3 linked regions of the Homo sapiens genome follow. The protein of the gene in region 1 interacts with the protein of each later gene in a pairwise test. Each region holds a gene or a part of one and is shown in the gene's direction. Other genes may lie near its edges.

Evidence for each region. The genes of interacting proteins can lie anywhere in the genome.
Region 2: the proteins of CPEB2 (region 1) and PIGS interact in a two-hybrid assay, tested with the Homo sapiens proteins (one study listed by BioGRID).
Region 3: the proteins of CPEB2 (region 1) and GABBR1 interact in a two-hybrid assay, tested with the Homo sapiens proteins (one study listed by BioGRID).

What each region holds. Positions count from the first base shown.
Region 1 is NC_000004.12:15,061,456-15,068,493, forward strand, and holds part of CPEB2 (cytoplasmic polyadenylation element-binding protein 2), read left to right. Parts: intron 1-623; coding exon 624-805; intron 806-4,697; coding exon 4,698-4,925; 3' UTR 4,926-7,038. UniProt on the Homo sapiens protein: May play a role in translational regulation of stored mRNAs in transcriptionally inactive haploid spermatids. Binds to poly(U) RNA oligomers. Required for cell cycle progression, specifically for the transition from metaphase to anaphase.
Region 2 is NC_000017.11:28,561,512-28,568,549, reverse strand, and holds part of PIGS (GPI-anchor transamidase component PIGS), read left to right. Parts: intron 1-4,642; coding exon 4,643-4,732; intron 4,733-5,027; coding exon 5,028-5,119; intron 5,120-6,920; coding exon 6,921-7,038. UniProt on the Homo sapiens protein: Component of the glycosylphosphatidylinositol-anchor (GPI-anchor) transamidase (GPI-T) complex that catalyzes the formation of the linkage between a proprotein and a GPI-anchor and participates in GPI anchored protein biosynthesis.
Region 3 is NC_000006.12:29,602,171-29,609,208, reverse strand, and holds the end of GABBR1 (gamma-aminobutyric acid type B receptor subunit 1 isoform a precursor), read left to right. Parts: intron 1-475; coding exon 476-608; intron 609-706; coding exon of another isoform or gene 707-742; exon of another isoform or gene 743-1,990; coding exon 1,991-2,107; intron 2,108-2,204; coding exon 2,205-2,312; intron 2,313-2,724; coding exon 2,725-2,818; intron 2,819-3,512; coding exon 3,513-3,640; intron 3,641-4,220; coding exon 4,221-4,349; intron 4,350-4,571; coding exon 4,572-4,715; intron 4,716-5,492; coding exon 5,493-5,666; 3' UTR 5,667-6,971; downstream 6,972-7,038.

The sequences.
Region 1 (7,038 bases):
AATGCTACTTACAGATAGATTGACCATTGGACTTGGCTTGAACAATTATAGTGGAGTCATGGTGTGATAGTCTGGTTAGAAAAAGAGTTGAATAAAGAGAAAGGGAGGAGAGGAATTGGGGGGAATACTGGAACAGATTTTGAGAAATTTGGTTGTAAAGGGGAACAGAGAAATGGAGCAGTAGCTGAGAGGGAGAAAAAGTGTTATGGGAATTTTTTTTAAGATAGGAAAATTATAGTGTACTTGGGAAAATTGATTGTATAGAAGGGAAAGGGGAGAATTGCTGAAGCAGTGTCCTAAGTGAGAGTGTATGGGATCTAGTATGCAAGTGAAAGGATTGGATTTAGGAAAGAGCATGGAACTATTTCTCTATAGGACAGAAGATAGAGTATATAGTGGGTTTAGTGCTGTAAGTAGGTAGATGTGATGGTGGTGAGTCACTTTATAGTTTAAAAAAAGCATCCTCGATCCCCGTCCTTTTTTAACAACAGCCTCTTATCTGCCATTCTACTCCTGGTCAAATGATAATATACTATTGACTTTTACGTTTTACAAAAAGTACTTAAAAATTGTTGATTACTGTGTTCTCTCACATTTGATGTAAACTTCTTTTCCTTTTCAAGTGGAACTTGCTATGATCATGGACCGGCTGTATGGTGGAGTTTGTTATGCAGGAATTGATACAGATCCTGAGCTAAAATACCCAAAAGGTGCTGGGCGAGTTGCTTTCTCCAATCAGCAGAGCTATATTGCTGCCATTAGTGCTCGGTTTGTTCAGCTTCAGCATGGTGATATTGATAAACGTGTAAGTTGCATATTGGGAAATCACTTATGTCCTATAATAAGGTGCTGATCCAAAGCCTCATACCCTAACGAGTTAATAATATAATTTGAACACTTTAATTTTTATACTTCTGTAAGTCTTAAAGGATATTATATAAAAATATCCTTGAAATGGAAAATTACTGAACACACTTTAAACTTTAGATATAATGTAAAAATATTAATATCATTGTGCAGCCATGTCAAAATTTTTTAATCAGCCAGTAAGGTCAAATATTCTAACCGTGGAGGCAGAGGTTGTTTTAAGAGCCTGTACATTGGAGTCAGACTGCCTGGGATTGAACCCCATTTCTACAAATTAACCTTCTGTATGCCTCTTTTTCCTCACTTGTAAAATAGAAAACAATGATAACATGTCTTTCTCAGTAATTTTGAGGATTAAATGAATTTACATATATATAAGCACTTAGAATAGAACTTGACGGAGAGTGTTATTTAAATGTTTGTTTTCATTTGTCACAAAATCTAAAATAAAAATGCATTGTGTGTATTTCTCTAAAATAATTGACCTAAACTTAAAATTTTTTTAGTAGCATTGCTTGAATCATCACAATAAGAACTTGTAAGAAGTACTAGGAATGATAACTGAAACCCCTACTGAATAATTCCAAGTACTGACTACCTTCTAAAATAGGGAAAGACACTAGCATTCATTTACAAATCTATTTTATGCCAAAATCTGTGAACAGTTCCTATACATAGCTAAATATATTATAAAATAATCATGTTTATAATTATAGTATAGCAGAAATACATTAAGAATATGCGGGTAAATGAATTTTTTATATCTGAATTAGTAGATAGAAGATACAATTTGAGTGGGTACTCCTTTTCCCCAATATAACAGTTTCTTCAAGCCTCTTCTGGGGCTGTTTGGCACATTAAAAGACTATTTTGGGGACAGGGAAGCTGGTTAATTAATACCGATTGACTAGACCATGCATGCTAGAAGTAGTCCTCAATGTAATTACCCAACCGTCTCATTTAGAAAAGAAATGCAGCATAGGTTCAGTTCACAAATGCAGAGTAGGTTTTTTTTGTTTGTTTGCATTGCTACTTAAAAGGTTGCCAAAAAAAAAAAACTAAGAGGAGGTGCTCTGCTTTTGACAAGACACGCATACGTAACTTTTCTGAACTTGTCTGAACATTAAGAGTTCCTGTAGTGTTGTGTTTCTCAACCTCTGCTGTACATTATTCACCTGGGAACTTAGAAAAATCTTGACATTTGGGTCCTACCCCCTGAGGTTCTGCTGAATTGGTTATAAAGCTCCGGAAGTGACACAAATGTACAGCAGTGGTTTAGACCGCTAACAGAGAGGTGATAGGTCACAGACGACGTTATTTACATAGTATGTAATCATGGTATTTAATATACACTACCAGAAGAAAAAGACTGTTACAGTGTCATACCTCATACCTCTTTGTTTCTGAAATTATAGTGAAGGACCGATTATTTGGAGCAGAGTACTGACTCTTAAAGAGCAACTCAGTTGCAGAGCAGATGAATTGAGATACATGTGCCTTCTTAAAAAGGCATTGAAATACCTGAGGGAAAAGCTTATTTTCTAAGATATGTGCTACAAAGGTAATTTTGAACTGTATTTGAAAGAATTTGAGCCTTAAATATTTTACAAGTCACTAATATTGCTTATACAAAGAAATATTAAACCATTAACCTTTATACCTTTCATCTCTCCAATATGAATATGGTTATTAAACCATAAAAATTGAATAAATATACGTGTATAACTGCCAACCCAGAGATACACGGGATACTTATTTGGCGGGAATGAAAATTGTTTATTCCACTTAACTTTTTAGACTCATGGATACTGTGGTTTAGTTCCTATCTGATAGCTGGAAAGCAGTCACCACAGATGTGTAATTCATTATATTTTTTTGTATGTTATTTCATAAGTAGTATAATTCACTGTGACTTCTAGTAAATGTTAGAAAATAAGACTAGGTGAAGTGTAGTGTTAATGAAACTTCCTTTTGCATATAGAAGAGTTTAATTATTAGAGATTATTAATGAAAAATAGGTTTTGAAATTCAATTTTCCATCTTTAAAGTCTGGTTTTGAGTAAAGTAGGTTAGCTTCATAAAACTAATATCTAGAATTTTAAAAATACAAATAATTGAAATCATTGCATTTGTGAAATTTTCATTCAACAGTTTTATATTAAAATGTAACTCCTGAACATCTGGTGTTTTATCAGGTATTATGGAAGTGAAGTAAACATCACAGACCCTGGTTTCAATCTGTCTAAAATCTTATTTTAAAAAAAAAGAAATAACCATGAGAAAGAAACCCAGAAAACATATGTAAATGTATTGCATTTATGCATATATTTATAGCATTTCTACTTCGTGCTAGATATTCTTCTAGGCACTGGGAACTGAATGTTGAGCAAATGGGTGCTGTCCCAGTGTTCATGGAGTTTATAATTCAGTGAGATGAAATCCAGTTAACTCTCATGCTACCTTAATTTATTCTTTGTTTGTAATAATGTTCCCATAAAGGAAAAAGTTGAGAGATAAAAATTAAGCATAACAATTTTAAAAATTTGTGTTAAAGATTGTAAAGCCACTGGAAAAAAGGTTAAAAACTCTTAACTGACAAAAGAGAACTCATAAATCAATTTAAAAAACAAACAAAACTCCAGCAAGAAAATATGCAAAAGATACAAACAAGCAATTCAGAAAAGCCAAGTGTCGAATATACATAAAATATATTTATCCTAATCCTAATCAATGAAATATAAACAACAATGTAATTCCATTACCTGTCTATCAAATGAACATCCTACAGTTCTTGTAATCAACTTTTAGGTTGTTTCTAGTTTGTTGTTGTTCTTACAAATAATATTGCGGAAAATATCCTTATATTCATTTTCTGCACTCATGCAAGTATTTCAGTAGAATACATTCAGAATACAAACTGTTGGGTCATTACTTTTTACTATAGGCAACCTTTACTTTATGTCAATCCAGTCCTTCAGAACACTCAGTGTTCTGTTGTCTCCTAAGGAACGGCTGAGCTGTTATGCTGTCTGGCACTTTTCAGCCAAACAACAGTAAAAACCTTCCATTCATAAAGTTATCACAAGCAGGAAAGCAAGGCTATTGCAGCTAATAGTAGCTAATACTAATTTATAGAATATTTTACCATGTGCCGAGCACTGTCTTATGCTTTTACATTCACAATTTAAGCCTCACAACTCTGACAGGATCTGTTATTCCCACTTGACAGATGTGGAAACTGAGGTGGAGAAGTTTATCATTCAGAGCTGACTCCAGTCTGAAGTGTTCTGCCAAGTCAGACCTTCACAACGGGACTTGTGCTTTATATCTTATAAATTTACAGAAGTCTAGGCATGCCCTTTGTAAGATTCTCCACAGTTCTGGCTTGTCTGTGCCAGTTATTTCCAAGCAGAGTGTGACTCGCACCTGCAGTGGAGAGGCGCCGCCTTAATCAGTGGCTGTTCGGGTTCTGCCATCTCACAGGTGATACTGGAATGAGGGGAAAAGGTGTGGAAACTGTCTTCCATGACTACTTGATATCTCTTTTGTTTTTCACTCATAATCTCCCCTAACTCTGAAAATACCAGCACACAGGTGTTTCAAAGATGTTATTCAAGAAAGGTGAGAGTGGAATGTTTTGCAAATCAGATTTTTATAGATTTTTAAAGTGTTTTAACCTACTACATTGTAAAGCTCCTTCCTTGAGAAACTGCCCATTTCCTCAGCTTTTAATGCTGGTCCTTTTTTTCTGCTGTAGAACATTTTAAGTTATTACAGAATTTGATTTCTGAAGCAGACCCTAATGAGACTTAACTTTCTTTTTTTTCAAGGTGGAGGTAAAGCCATATGTGCTAGATGACCAGATGTGTGATGAATGCCAGGGCGCACGCTGTGGTGGAAAATTTGCTCCCTTTTTTTGTGCCAATGTCACTTGCCTGCAGTATTACTGTGAGTTTTGTTGGGCAAATATCCACTCTCGTGCTGGACGTGAGTTCCATAAGCCATTGGTAAAGGAAGGTGCTGATCGCCCACGTCAGATCCACTTCCGCTGGAACTAAGAATAGCAAACTGGCCTCTGTTTAACAAGGAAAGAAAGGGTGCATGTGGCTTACTGTGTCTGAAGATACTGACATGCAGAAGAAATAAGTGCATTCTTCTGCTTTTCACCCCAGCTATCAATACATGCATCTTTATCAGCAGCCAAAACACTACAAGCCTCTTGTTTTTCACCAAAACCCTACATCTCAGGCTTACTAATTTTTGTGATATTTTCATGTTCAAATAAAATGTTTTTTTGTATTTTCTCCAAGTTATTTTTATATGTAAAGTTAAAATTAGATATGAGAATGTTTTGCGTAGGGGCAACACAGTCTGCTGCTATATAGTGGGGGAAGCGTGCACTTATTTCTAAACATGGGTTTTTAACTTCAAGATCTGCCCCAGTAATTTACCAAAGGTAGCAAAATAATAGTGAAGATGGAATATGTCTGCTACAAATGCTTATTTTTATTGTTGCTATTTTCAGTGTATACATAAACTAAAAATTAGGGTTGATTTTTTTGCTCTCCATTTTGACTTGCAAGAAATAATACCTCAAGATAATCTGATTTATTAGCTATTTTTAAACATTTTTAATCACAAGCTGTATTAGCTTTGCTGCTATATAGGTGTTATGTGTAAATGCCACCTATTAATACGGGACTGAAAACGTTAGAGACACACTGCATTGCAGATAAAATGCAGGCAGCACAATATGGCCTAAACTGCCATAGTTTTAGAATGTGAAAAAAATGCATGTTTACTTACCTGTATACACCATATGCATGCACTAGAATTATTAACTAACGAGGTGAGGTATTGCAAATGTTCAAAAAAGCTCTCTTGAATCTAGGTAGCATGAACAAATTATAAAATTTGTTTAAAAAAGCAAACTTGCATGCATTATTGTGACTTCAAGTTTAAAAAATCGTCTTACATGTGTACAATATGCAAATTAGTTTTAGATTAGAGAGTGCAGCCATTTTGTGATCTGGTCAGTAGTGGAATTCGATTTTATGCAGACTGGATGTAATATTTGTAATCCCTGTGCAATTTTGTGACGTGCGGTTCTAATTCATGTGCAGTGATATAGTATAGATAAAAGAATGAGTAAAAGAAAATACAAGAATTCTAAAGAAAGTTGGTTTTAGCCCCTTTGATAGTCCATGGTTAAGACATCCTTTATAAACCAAAGATGGCCAGCACACTGCTAACCAGTCACCAAATGTAAGACCCATAAGAAACCCATATTTAAAAATCTGAATTTTTTAGAAGAATGCAAAACTTTAGTAAACCCTAAGTAAAGTCAAAATGGAGAAGGGGAAATATACAGATGGCTAGTTGCATAAAATTAAATTTTACCTTTATAAGACAATGGTGAAATCTGGCTTGAACTTGCTTATGTGTTTAACCTATAAATATTGGGGTCTTCTGTCTAAACTGGGGTCACTGTTGCATGGAACATTGTTCTTAATAGTTGAGAATTGCTTTTTTGAAAATTTTCATGAAGGAATTTTGGTAATGACTTTGCTTGCAGGTTTTTTGGGGTGTTTTGAGAAAGTGGCATGGAAACATGCAGTAGTTAATGAGTTTCTCTTGGTACTGAACACTATTAGAATATCATTAGTGATATTTTTTCTCTTTAGAGCATTTTTAATGCAACTAGCCCCTATATTTTAATGTAAGAGTTACTCTGCAATCTAAGCAAAGCACCCAACAATGGTAAATGTTTTTTAAAAATGCAGAACTAAGATTTTTGACTCTAAAGAGAGAAAATTACAAGGGTGTTGCCTTATAGCAAACCCTTGGGACAATCCTTCATGTGAGCAAAGTGTTGATCTTAATATTGGTTGTCTGTGGTGTGCTTTTTTGTACTGTAAAAATATGTGGTTCATGTCTAACTCTGCTGTTTTATTGTGGTTGTGGTTCAAGTTTTTAATGTTTAAAGTTGATGCTGTTTTCAGAAGAGCTTTTTACTAATTTATTTGTCAGTGTTCCCTATTTGTTACTTAACCATGATCCTCCAGATTTTTTGGAGTATTCTTTTCTAACCTTAACCCTGCCAAACCTTGATCCATTTTGACATTTGTTATGCACTATTTTTATATCTCTGTGAGAGATTTTTCCAACAGT
Region 2 (7,038 bases), on another chromosome or scaffold:
GTTTCCTCATCTGTTAGACGGAAATAGTAATAGCGTTGTTCATTTATTCAACAAGTATTTACTTTGTAGCTATGTCAGATACAGTTCTAGTTACTAGAGATATAGCAGTGAACAAAACAGACAAGAAGAAGACAATAAAAAAGACAAAGCTGGATGTGGTAGCTCACACCTGTAATCCCAGCACTTTGGGAGGCCGAGGCAGGCAGATCACTTGAGATCAGGAGTTTGAGACCAGCCCGGCTAACATGGTGAAACCCCATCTCTACTAAAAATACAAAAATTAGCCGGGCGTGGTGGCGGGCGCCTGTAATCCCAGCTACTTGGGAGGCTGAGGCAGGAGAATCGCTTGAACCTGTGAGGTGGAAGTTGCAGTGAGCCAAGATCCCACCACTGCACTCCAGCCTGGGTGACAAAGACTCCATCTCAAAAAAAAAAAGAAAAAAAGACAAGTAAGTCAAATGTATGTTAGATGGTGACAGAAGAAAAATAGAGCAGGACAGGAGGAGAGGGAATTTTCTTGAGGAATGGGAGGGGATTGCAGTTTTAGATAGGGTGGACAAGGGAGGTCTCATTGAAAAGAGGACATTCGAGTAAATACCTAAAAGGCGAGGGAATAGACTGTGCAGATATCTGGGGGAAGAGCATCTTGGCAGAGGGAAAAGCATGTCTAAGGTCCCGAGTTAAGAGCAAGTGTTGTACCTTTCAGGAGCAGTGAGAATCTCCTTGTGGCTTCACTGGAGTGAATGAGGAAGAGAGAAAGAGGAAATGAAATAAAACCAGAACAGTAGAAGGGGGCTGAATCACTTAGGGCCTGGTAGATCACTGTGAGAATTTGCATTCTAGGCTTTTATTCTAGATAAGAAGGGAAGCCATTGAAGGTTTTTTGTTTCTTTTTTTAAACATGACTACCATTGTCACACCTAACTAAGTTAGCAGTGATTCCTTAATATCACCTAATTCTCAGTCTGTATTTAGATCTCTCCAGTTATCTCCAAGGTATCCTTTCACAGATGGTTTATTCCATCAGGATCAATAAGTTGCATTTGTCTTTTTGTCACTTTTATTTTATGTCAGCTCCCCCCACCCTACCCCCATACATTTCTTTCACACCATTGATTTGTTGGAGAAACCAGGTCATTTGTTTTATAGAACATCTCACATTTGGGATTTGGCGAGTAGCTTCCTCACAGTTTAATTTAACTCATTCCTCTAGCATCCATATTCCTTATAAACTGGGAGTTAGATCTAGTGGTTTGATTAAAGCCAGGTTCAATTTTTTGGATGAGAATACATTGTAGGTGGTGCAGTGTACTTCCTATTGTGTTGTATCCTGAAGCACTTAATGGCTAGTTGTTCCATTTTGGGTGATGCAAAGATTATGTAGTGAGTTCAGGTATTGTCAGCCTGATCTCTATATTTTAGAGTTTCTCATCAACCTTTTACATATTTTTAGCATCTATTTGATCATGGAATCCATTTCATTAGCAGTCACAAGATAATGCTTTTTTTAATTTTTATTTTTTTTAGAGACAGGGTCTCACTCTGTCACCCAGACTGCTGTGCAGTGGCTCAATCATAGCTTACTGCAGCCTTGAAATCCTAGGCTCAATCAGACCTCCCACCTCAGCCTCCCAAGTAGGTAGGACTACTGGTGTGTGGCCAGGCACAGTGGCTCACGCCTGTAATCCCAGAACTTTGGGAGGCCAAGGCGGTGGATCATTTGAGGTCAGGAGTTTCAGACCAGCCTGGGCAATGTAGTGAAACCCCTTCTCCACTAAACATACACAAATTCGCTGGGTGTGGTGGTGTGTGCCTGTAGTCCCAGCTACTCTGGAGTCCAAGACAGGAGAATTGCTTGAACCTAGGAGGCAGAGGTTTCATTGAGCCAAGATTGTGCCACTGCATTCCAGCCTGGGAGACAGAACGAGACTCTGTCTCAAAAAAAAAAAAAAAAAAGTAGGCTGGGCGCGGTGGCTCACGCCTGTAATCCCAGCACTTTGGGAGGCTGAGGCGGGTAAATCACTTAAGGTCAGGAGTTCAAGACCAGCCTGCTCAACATGGGAAAACCCTGTCTCTACTAAAAATACAAAAATTAGCTGGGTGTGGTGGCACATGCCTGTAATCCCAGCTACTTGGAAGGCTGAGGTAGGAGAATTGCTTGAAATGGGGAGGCGGATGTTGCAGTGAGCCGGGATCCCACTGTTATTCTCCAGTCTGGGCAACAGAGCCAGATTCCATCTCAAAAAAAAACCCAAAAAAACAAAAAAAAAAAAAAAAAGAAAAGAAAAAGTAGACAAGGGGTCCTTTTTTTTTTTTTTTTTTTGAGATAGGGTCTGACACTCAGGCTGAAGTGCAGTGGCCCAATCATAGCTCACTGTAACCTTGAACTCCTGGGTTCAAGTGGTCCTCTTACCTCAAGCTCTCAAGCTCCCAAGTAGCTGAGACTACAAGAATGTGCCACTGTGCCCAGCTAATTTTTTATTTATTTTATTTAATTTGTTTATTTATTTATTTATTTTGAGACAGAGTCTCACTCTGTCACCCAGGCTGGAGTGCAGTGGCGCAATCTCAGCTCACTGCATCGTCCGCCTCCCGGGTTCAAGTGATTCTCCTGCCTCAGCCTCCTGAGTAGCTAGGACTACAAGTGCACAGACACCATGCCTGGCTAATTTTTGTAATTTTAGTAGAAACGGGGTTTCACCATGGTGGCCAGGCTGGTCTTGAACTCCTGGCCTCGAGCAGTCCGCCTGTCTTGGCCTCCTAAAGTGCTGGGATTACAAGCGTGAGCCAGTGCACCTGGCCCCAGCTAGTTTTTAAATTTTTTGTAGAGACGGGGTCTCACTGTGTTCCCCGAGCTGGTCTCAAACTCCTAGGCTTAAGCAATCTTCCCACCTCGGACCCTAAAGTGCTGGAATTACAGGCATCAGCCACCACACCTGGCCAAATTAGTGACTTTTACAATTCTGTCATTTCTTCTTTCTGGAAGAAATGTATGACCTGGAATTCTTTTATAAAGAAAAGAGGAACTTTTTCAATAAATTTTAGGTTTAGCTTGTCAAGTTTCAGGAGGCAAAAAAAATCCCTTCAGGATTGCCTTACATGTATATATTAATTTGGGGAGAGTTGACATCTTTATAATAGTCTTTATAATATGACATCTTTATAATATTCATCTAGGGGCCTTGTATGCTATTCCATTTTGTTCAGATATTTTATGTCCTTCAGTAAAGTCTTGAAGTTTTCTTCTTATAGTTTTATACATTTATTCCTGGGTATTTTTATACTTTATTGTTAATGTGATTGAGGTTTTAAAAGATGTTTCTAATTGGATATTGCTGGTATTTATGCGGGTATTGATTCTTGCATATCCTTGTATCTAGTCATCTTATTGAACTGTTGCTAGTTCTAATAGTTTTTCAGTTGGTTCTCTGATTTTCTTGAGAAATAATTATGCTACTTCAAAGTGGCCATTTTATCTGTTTCTTTCCAATACTTTTAAGTTTTCTTTCTCTTTCTTCACATATTACATTGGTCAAGAACTTTAGAAAGAACAATACTGAATAACAATGAGAATAGAGGAGATAGCAGGCATCCTTGTTTTATTACTAACTTTACAGAATTATGTTTAATATTTTGTCATTAAGTGTGTGGTTTTTATTTTTTATTTTTTTGAGACAAGGTCTGGTTCTATTACCCTGGCTGGAGTGCAGTGGTGCCATCTCAGGTCACTGCAACCTCTGCCTCTCAGGCTCAAGTCATCCTCCCACCTCAACCTCCCAAGTAGTTGGGACTACAGGTGTGCACCACCATAACTGCCTTTTTTTTTTTTTTTTTGAGATGGAGTTTCGCTCTTGTTGCCCAGGCTGGAGTGCAATGGTGTGATCTCGGCTCACTGCAGCCTCCGCCTTCTGGGTTCAAGTGATTCTCTTGCCTGAGCTTCCCGAGTAGCTGGGATTACAGGCGCCTGCCACCACACCCAGCTAATTTTTTGTATTTTTGGTAGAGATGGGGTTTCATCACGTTGGCCAGGCTGGTCTCAAACTCCTGACCTCAGGTGATCCACCCGCCTTGGCCTCCCAAAGTGCTGGGATTACAGGTGTGAGCCACCATGTCTGGCACATACCTGGCTAATTTTTGTATTTTTTGTAGAGTTGGGGTTTCATCATGTTGTCCAGGCTAATCTCCAACTCATGAGATCAAGGGATCCGCCTGCCTTGGCCTCCCAAATTGCTGGGATTACAAGCATGAGCCACCGTGCCCAGCCTGTGTATTTTGTTTTTTATCAGGAACATTCACTGAATTTAATTATTTTGGGGCAGTGATTGGAATGACCATACAGTTTTTCTCCTTTTGCCTATTAATGTAATGACTATTGAAATAGATTTCCCAGTGGGAAGACGTTTCACGCTGAAGGACCAGTGTGTGCAGAGGTGAAGGCAAGAGCTGCGGCAGATGGGCGAAATGGGTGTCATGTGTTTGATATCATCTATGCAGAAATCATTAGAGTTGGCTGCAGCTGCTTGGTCTTTTTCTGTAAACAGCCATCTTGCTGTCCTCAGATGCTGGACAGTGTTAGGTCTGGGAAGGTGGGCAGAGGCATGATGCTTGCCCTTTTCATTGTGCTACTTCTTATCCCTCCCAGACAAAATGAAAATCAAATGCCGTTTCCAGAAGGCCTATCGGAGGGCTTTGGACCATGAGGAGGAGGCCCTGTCATCGGGCAGTGTGCAAGGTATGGGAAGGGATGAGCACACCATTTTAATGTGAAGCCCTCTTTTTCCTTCTGATCTCTAAGTGCATAGTTCCCATGCTTTGGCTTACTTCCAAAACCTCTCTTGGAATGCTGGGAATGAGGAACTGTGGGATTCAGCCCAGTCCACTGAGGGCCAGAGAGGTTGATTGGCTTACCCAAGCCTGACCACTGTGTCAGCTGAATGTGAGTGAAGGGGTGGGTTAGGCATTCTTTGGGGCTGGGGGGAGATGGAATGGTGTTTTGCTCTTGGTGTACCACCTGTTCTTGCCCCCAGAGGCAGAAGCCATGTTAGATGAGCCTCAGGAACAAGCGGAGGGCTCCCTGACTGTGTACGTGATATCTGAACACTCCTCACTTCTTCCCCAGGTAAGGTAACAGAGAGGCTGCGACTTTGCCTTATCCCTTCAGCTCGTGGACTCCTGGGTCACCTCCTTCTTGCATCATTGCTACCCATTTCTTCCATTTGCTACAGAAAACTCTCCAAAAAAAAATTTTTTTTTTTTTGAGACGGAGTCTTGCTCTGTTGCCTAGGCTGGAGTACAGTGGCGGGATCTCGGCTCACTGCAGCCTCCGCCTCCCGGGTTCAAGTGATTCTCCTGCCTCAACCTCCTGAATACCTGGGATTACAGGCATGTGCCATGTAATGTATTTTTAGTAGAAATGGGGTTTCACCACGTTGGTCAGGCTGGTCTCGAACTCCTGACCTTGTGATCTACCTGCCTTGGCCCCCCAGAGTGCTGAGATTACAGGCGTGAGCCACCGCACCCGTCCTCCACATATTTTTAATAAAGAATGCTGGCTGGGTCTGGTGGCTCACACTGTAATCCCAGCACTTTGGGAGGCCGAGGCGGGCAGTTTGCTTGAACTCAGGGGTTCAAGACCAGCCTGGGCAACATGGCAAAACCCCATCTCTACAAAAAATAAAAAAAATTAGCTGGATGTGGTAGTCCCTGTTACTTTTGGAGGCTGAGGCAGGGGGAGCGCTTGAGCCTGGGAGGTGGAGGTTGCAGTGAGCTAATATCATGCCATTGCACTCCCCATCTCTACTAACAATACAAGAATCGGCCGGGTGCGGTGGCACATGCCTGTAATCCCAGCACTTTGGGAGGCCGAGGCAGGCGGATCACTTGAGGTCAGGAGTTTGAGACCAGCCTGGTCAACATGGTGAAACCCCATTTCTACTAAAAATACAAAAATTAGCCGGGCGTGGTGGTGGGTGCCTGTAGTCCCAGCTACTCGAGAGGCTGAGGCAGGAGAATCACTTGAACCCAGGAGGTGGAGGTTGCAATGAGCCAAGATAGTGCCACTGCACTCCAGCCTGGGCGACAGAGTGAGACTCTGTCTCAAAAAGAAAATTTATAATCAAATATTTAATTTTTATAAAAGCACTAAAGAAAATGTTAATGAACGTCCCCATCCCCACCCCCAGCTCACAAACTGCAGTGCAGTAGCACGGTGTGTACTTCCATGGTTATACTCCATTCCCTTTTGGCCCAAGGCAACCAGATTTTGTGTTTGTAATTTTCTTGCTTTTCCTTAGAGTTTGATCACATATGCTGTATCTCTGTAAACAATGTATTTAATTTTACATTTTTGAATTTATATAAATGGTGGCTTATAACACATGTTCCTCTGCCACTTTTATTTTATTCCCTTCATGTGGCAGAGCCTGGTGAGAGAATCATCCATAATTATGTAGTTGAATCTATGTATCATTGTATAAACATAAACATAATTTACCCATTCTATTGCTAATGGACATTTGGATTATTTCTAGGTTTTACTGTTAGAAATAATGCTATTATGAATACTTGTTTCTTTGCCATGTGCCATTTTTATATCAGACTCTCCAGTTGTCTGTTTATTCCGCTTTTCTTGCTCAGCATGCCATCTCTGAGTTTCCATTTCACCATTTTACCAGCCCCTGAAGAGTTAGATGCTGCCTGGACCCATGTCAACTGGGAAAAAGAAGAGAACGGAGACAAATGAAAATACTCAATATATACTCATAGCTCAGAAATGCTGAGTTAATAGCTCATGAATCTCAAGAGAGGTGCAAACCTGTTGGTCATTGGCAAAGGGGCAGATTCGGAACAGTAGGAGCCAGGGTGCTTTTTGGCTTTCTTTTCTGAGCCATGGGCATTCTGTCTCTTGCTCACCCCCACAGGACATGATGAGCTACATTGGGCCCAAGAGGACAGCAGTGGTGCGGGGGATAATGCACCGGGAGGCCTTTAACATCATTGGCCGCCGCATAGTCCAGGTGGCCCAGGCCATGTCTTTGA
Region 3 (7,038 bases), on another chromosome or scaffold:
TTTCCTTGTCTGCCTCTCTGAGATACTGATCATGTTCCTGGACAGGATGAGAATAAAACCTGTGTAACTCCCATGGCCATGTATCATGGAGTTTTTCATTCTGACTTGTTGAGAATGAAAACAGGGAAACCAGATATAACCCCCACTCCTACTCCAAAGTAGCTAACGGGAGGAAAAAAGAAAAGAAGAGAAAAAAACAACCTTTGGGGCCAGGTCTCACAGTCTTGGACTCTACATAAATAGCCTGTATTCTAGTGGGGGCCTGTGCTTGGGAAGCCCTCTGCAACTCCATCTTCAGCCCCATGACTGCATTGCTCTGCCTCTCAAGGCTCCACTGTCTTCTCCAATCCTGTCTTCCTTTAGCCCCTGGCCCTGAAATTAGGGTCATGCCATTGCGTGGTATTTGGAGAGCTCAGCCTCCCTGGAGAAGAGGGGTAATTCTCTCTCCCTCTCACCCTCTCCACCTCTGCCCTAGTTATATCCAGAACTCACAGCCCAACCTGAACAACCTGACTGCTGTGGGCTGCTCACTGGCTTTAGCTGCTGTCTTCCCCCTGGGGCTCGATGGTTACCACATTGGGAGGAACCAGTTTCCTTTCGTCTGCCAGGTGAGGAGGTGGTGGGCAAATTCCTTACAGGATGTGACTCTCCCACCCGTCTCAGGAGCACCTTCCATGATTTATGATTCTCTGCCCTTCCTCCTCAGCTTTCCCTGACTCTTGTCCCTGTTCTTTCCTTCTAGCATCACCCCTCTGTTCTCTGTTTGGCTCTGTCCCTTCTTTCTGTGTCTGCAGGCCATTTTCATTCTGTAGTTTACTTGTCAGTTCCAAGGTTGCCATGGCAGGCCTTGCAGAGAAGAGGAGGGAGCCATTGAAGGCAAAGGAAGGGGATCTGCTCAAAGGTCTCCTGAACAATGGTGGCTTGTCTGTGGTATGGGGGCTGAGAATCAGAACTGTGGACTTTTTTTGGGAGCCTTTGTTGGGTTTGGAAGGATAGAAGCAGAGATGGAAACACAGCAGAGAGTTGGGGGGAAGGGACCACTGCCACACAGGGAGGAGGGGCTCTGGGACTGTTGGTACATGGAAGGTTCTAGTGCTGTGGGGAGAGGCCAGCTTCAACAGTGATAGTTGAGTGGTTCTCTTTTCCACTGGTGGAAACACCCACTCTTTCTCCTGATCTGCCTGCCTGTCCTTGCTCTCTCTTTTTCCTCTGCTCTGTGCTGTCCTGATCATACATCTGTGCACATGGCATTTCCATGCACATGCACATGCAGTTCATCAGGAATCCTCTGTTCCCAGTGAGGCCAGAGTGCAGCTGGAGAAGCAGACAATTAGCTGTAGTGCAATAGGAGAGGTTCCAGAGTAGGGATCTGCACAAAGTGCTTTGGGGGCAAAGAAGGGAACACAGTTCACTGCTGGCGTGATTGGGTGGACCTCACTGAAGAGGTGGCATTTGAATACTGAAGGACAAATAGGATTTTATCAGCTAGAGAAATAGAGGAAGGCTACTTCAGGGGCATAGGGAGCATCGTGTGGCTAGAAAATACATGAAAGAGAGTAGATGAAGAGAAAGTGAGTAGTTCAGCATGGCTGGAGCGTGGGGTAGGTGTGGGGCTGGGAGATGAGCCTAGCTGGACAGGTGGATGGGAGCATGTTGTGAAGGGTCTGTGTCATATCCAGAAGTGTTCAGGCTATAACTTATAGATATTGGGGAGTGGTTGGAGGTTTTTGGCCACTAAAGCCAGGAGGTTTTAGCAAGATCACCCTGGTGGTGTGGAAGTAGAGGGTGGATGGGAGGAATTGTTCAAGGTGGGGAGACTGCTCTCCTCCTGCCGCTCCCCGTCCTGCTCACATTTTCGCATCCTCCCTGTGCCACCATGAGCTCCCTGCCCGTGCTCCCTGCCCACTCTCCCTTAGGGTTCTGCCCATCCTTACTGCAGTCCCGGCTACTACTCTACCCTGTTCTGCCTGTGCCCTCTCTTCCTTTCTAGGCCCGCCTCTGGCTCCTGGGCCTGGGCTTTAGTCTGGGCTACGGTTCCATGTTCACCAAGATTTGGTGGGTCCACACGGTCTTCACAAAGAAGGAAGAAAAGAAGGAGTGGAGGAAGGTGAGCTGCTGCCCAATCCTCAGCCCCCAGATCCTTGGCTCCTGGGGCACAGAGCATTTTCCCCTGACGTGCCTGTTCTCCCCACATATTTATCCAGACTCTGGAACCCTGGAAGCTGTATGCCACAGTGGGCCTGCTGGTGGGCATGGATGTCCTCACTCTCGCCATCTGGCAGATCGTGGACCCTCTGCACCGGACCATTGAGGTACCACTGGAGAGGAGGTGCTATGGTCAGGAGAATGAGCAGGGCTCAGTGGCCATCAGGGCCCTGGGGCTGTGTGTGTCTTGAGGGATGAAGCTACTTGGAGAGAGTGCCTTCCTCGTATTGGAAGCTCTTCCTTTCCTTCCTAGAAGGAGCCCCTCATAGGCCTCCAGATTCAGCTGAAGAAAGGAAGGGGTGGGAATCTGGGAAGGGTGTGTAGAACTTCCAGGCATCAGGGAAAGTGGGGAACAAGCACCTCCAAGGGTTCAGGAAAACATTCTTAGGCCTAGAATGAGATTTGGCATCAGCATTGAGGGTCTCATAGGAAAACAGTTGGAAGCCAGAGACTGAGAAGCGTTGAGGAGAGGAGGGGAGGCTGGCAACCATCTTTCTTGTGACCTTGTTTCTGCCCTAGACATTTGCCAAGGAGGAACCTAAGGAAGATATTGACGTCTCTATTCTGCCCCAGCTGGAGCATTGCAGCTCCAGGAAGATGAATACATGGCTTGGTGTGTGGGATGTGGGCAAAGGAGGGCAGGGATGCACAAAGGCAGGAGGGAAGGCAGGGGTAGAGGGCTTGGAGGGAGAGGGGTCTTTGGAAGAGGAGGTAGAGAGCTTGTCAACCCAGTTTGAACACCCTACTCTTTGTTATTGCACTAATCTTTTCTGAGAATAGGGGAGAGTTGCTCTTTTGCTATGAGGAGCTTAGGGCCCAAAGCACAGAAAGCACAGATGAAGAACTTGTGTTCAGCAGAGGAACAAGTGGGGGTAACCCCACCTCCAGACTTGACATTATCTTTTAGATCCCCCTTGGCCTTATTAGCATTGTTCGATTCATGGTCACAAATTGCAAACCTACCCTCTGCCTGGAAAGCCACCTTCCCACCTGTAGGGTAAGGGTGAGGCATGTGTGGCCCAGACTGGCCTATTTCTAGATATTCAACAAGCCCTTGCCTGACTGACAGCAGCTTGCCACCATTGCTTTCCTGTGTGAATCCCAGGAAAAAGTGATGTGGTCTGGGCAAGTTGGGTGGACATAAGGGATAGGGGACACAGGGTGAGGTTTGCTAGGTCAGAGGGGTTGGATTGGAGAGGAGGGCCCCCTTTCCATTTCAGAGTAGGTGAAGGGCAGAGAGGGGATGGGGATTGAGTGAGGAGCATTGTGGTCCTTGTTGCTCAAGTGACTCTCTCCTGCCATCCTAGGCATTTTCTATGGTTACAAGGGGCTGCTGCTGCTGCTGGGAATCTTCCTTGCTTATGAGACCAAGAGTGTGTCCACTGAGAAGATCAATGATCACCGGGCTGTGGGCATGGCTATCTACAATGTGGCAGTGAGCACTGACCCCATGGCATTGACCCTGTAGGCTGACCACAGCAGCCCAGATATAGAGGACTAGGAAGAATCAATGCTAGATCTGGGATCGGTTGCTTAGAAGTCTTAAAAAGTTTGTTAATTCTTCAGGTCTATAAAGCACTTTACAGTTTACAAAGCTCACTACAGACATTGTATCATTAATCTTGCAACTACCCAGTGAAGTAGATATTAGTATCCCCACTTTATAGGTGAGGAAACAGAAACACAGAGACGTTAAATTGCTTGTCTGTGGTTAATGGGCTGGACTCTATTGACATTTCCTGCCAGGGACCGACTCTGGAGGACCCGGAATCTGTGCATAGAGATCCTGGGAGTTCCTGCCTTGAGGGGAGGGGTTAACCAAGAGTGAAAACTGGTTTGGGACAGTTTGAGATTTTTCTCAATCTATATTTGAGGATGATCCTGAATTTGGATCCTTTTCAAAGGGAAAGTTCACCAGGAAACTGTCTGCATAGACTCCCTCCCATGGGAAGTAAACTCTGGATCTTGTCTGAGCCTGCAGACCTGAGACTCCCTCAATGTGTCTTTCCCTCTAGGTCCTGTGCCTCATCACTGCTCCTGTCACCATGATTCTGTCCAGCCAGCAGGATGCAGCCTTTGCCTTTGCCTCTCTTGCCATAGTTTTCTCCTCCTATATCACTCTTGTTGTGCTCTTTGTGCCCAAGGTAAGGATCTGGCTTTTCTCCCACCCTCTTTGTTCCCATGTTCCCTCCATCCCTCCTTCCTATATTACTGAGTTCCTCTGCCCTTCCGTTCACCCTCCTCTCACTCCTCCCCTTGTTTTGGGCCCAACTCTTATCAGCATTCCTTCCACCTCCAACCTTCCATCAGCCAGTCACTAGTACAGTCCTTGCTGGGCCACCCCACGCCCAAACATTTGCCCCCAGATGCGCAGGCTGATCACCCGAGGGGAATGGCAGTCGGAGGCGCAGGACACCATGAAGACAGGGTCATCGACCAACAACAACGAGGAGGAGAAGTCCCGGCTGTTGGAGAAGGAGAACCGTGAACTGGAAAAGATCATTGCTGAGGTGCGGGGGTGGGTGTCAGGGTAGGGTGTTGGAGTGGTCCAGGAGGCTTGCGTCTTAGCTTGGGTTGTCTGAAGCCAAGCCTGAGATACAGGGTCAGATGTTCTTGGCTCATGGAGGGAGGGTCCTAGGAGACAACCTGTAAGGAGTGAATGGAGCAGCATAGGGGAGGGGAAAGGGCTGAGCAAGATTCTATCTCAGGCAAAATCCAGTGTTGGCCTGGCAGGTGGAAGGGCTCTGGAGTGGGAGCTATGTGGTTGACTCAGCCTCCTTAAGGCAAGAGGATGGCTGTTGGCTGTAGGTGACAACTGGAGAGAGGCAGCTGTGAGCCTCTAGTAGTCAACACTCACAGCAGCTGGGTGTAGCATGCAGCCCCAGCATAAAGGACCTGGGCAGGCGTTCACTGTGCCCCAGGCTGTCATTAGGGGCTGGTGCAATGCCAAAGAGAGGGATGTTCCAACTGGGTTGACACATCTCTCTGATTTATTGGAAGCTCTGTGCACTGACTTTTCTCTCCTTCCCCACTTTTTCCTTTTGTTTTTAAATTCTCTCTTATTTCCCTGATCGCATTTTTTCTATCGGTATCCTTATGTTCTCTGGCTTTTCTTGTTCTGTTTTGATTTCTCCTTTTAATTTATTCTGTCCACTTACCCTACGTCCTCCCCCTACATTTTTCTGTGCCCTTCCTCTCTTTCCCTGTGCCCTTCCTCTCTTTCCCTCCTCCCCACTCCTTCATCACCTCCTCTTCTCCTACTATCCCAATTGTGCTTCTTCCTCCAGAAAGAGGAGCGTGTCTCTGAACTGCGCCATCAACTCCAGTCTCGGCAGCAGCTCCGCTCCCGGCGCCACCCACCGACACCCCCAGAACCCTCTGGGGGCCTGCCCAGGGGACCCCCTGAGCCCCCCGACCGGCTTAGCTGTGATGGGAGTCGAGTGCATTTGCTTTATAAGTGAGGGTAGGGTGAGGGAGGACAGGCCAGTAGGGGGAGGGAAAGGGAGAGGGGAAGGGCAGGGGACTCAGGAAGCAGGGGGTCCCCATCCCCAGCTGGGAAGAACATGCTATCCAATCTCATCTCTTGTAAATACATGTCCCCCTGTGAGTTCTGGGCTGATTTGGGTCTCTCATACCTCTGGGAAACAGACCTTTTTCTCTCTTACTGCTTCATGTAATTTTGTATCACCTCTTCACAATTTAGTTCGTACCTGGCTTGAAGCTGCTCACTGCTCACACGCTGCCTCCTCAGCAGCCTCACTGCATCTTTCTCTTCCCATGCAACACCCTCTTCTAGTTACCACGGCAACCCCTGCAGCTCCTCTGCCTTTGTGCTCTGTTCCTGTCCAGCAGGGGTCTCCCAACAAGTGCTCTTTCCACCCCAAAGGGGCCTCTCCTTTTCTCCACTGTCATAATCTCTTTCCATCTTACTTGCCCTTCTATACTTTCTCACATGTGGCTCCCCCTGAATTTTGCTTCCTTTGGGAGCTCATTCTTTTCGCCAAGGCTCACATGCTCCTTGCCTCTGCTCTGTGCACTCACGCTCAGCACACATGCATCCTCCCCTCTCCTGCGTGTGCCCACTGAACATGCTCATGTGTACACACGCTTTTCCCGTATGCTTTCTTCATGTTCAGTCACATGTGCTCTCGGGTGCCCTGCATTCACAGCTACGTGTGCCCCTCTCATGGTCATGGGTCTGCCCTTGAGCGTGTTTGGGTAGGCATGTGCAATTTGTCTAGCATGCTGAGTCATGTCTTTCCTATTTGCACACGTCCATGTTTATCCATGTACTTTCCCTGTGTACCCTCCATGTACCTTGTGTACTTTCTTCCCTTAAATCATGGTATTCTTCTGACAGAGCCATATGTACCCTACCCTGCACATTGTTATGCACTTTTCCCCAATTCATGTTTGGTGGGGCCATCCACACCCTCTCCTTGTCACAGAATCTCCATTTCTGCTCAGATTCCCCCCATCTCCATTGCATTCATGTACTACCCTCAGTCTACACTCACAATCATCTTCTCCCAAGACTGCTCCCTTTTGTTTTGTGTTTTTTTGAGGGGAATTAAGGAAAAATAAGTGGGGGCAGGTTTGGAGAGCTGCTTCCAGTGGATAGTTGATGAGAATCCTGACCAAAGGAAGGCACCCTTGACTGTTGGGATAGACAGATGGACCTATGGGGTGGGAGGTGGTGTCCCTTTCACACTGTGGTGTCTCTTGGGGAAGGATCTCCCCGAATCTCAATAAACCAGTGAACAGTGTGACTCGGCACCTTGCAGTCTTCCTGTGAACAGAATGGGCTTCAATCCAAGAAGGGAGGTTCAGAGG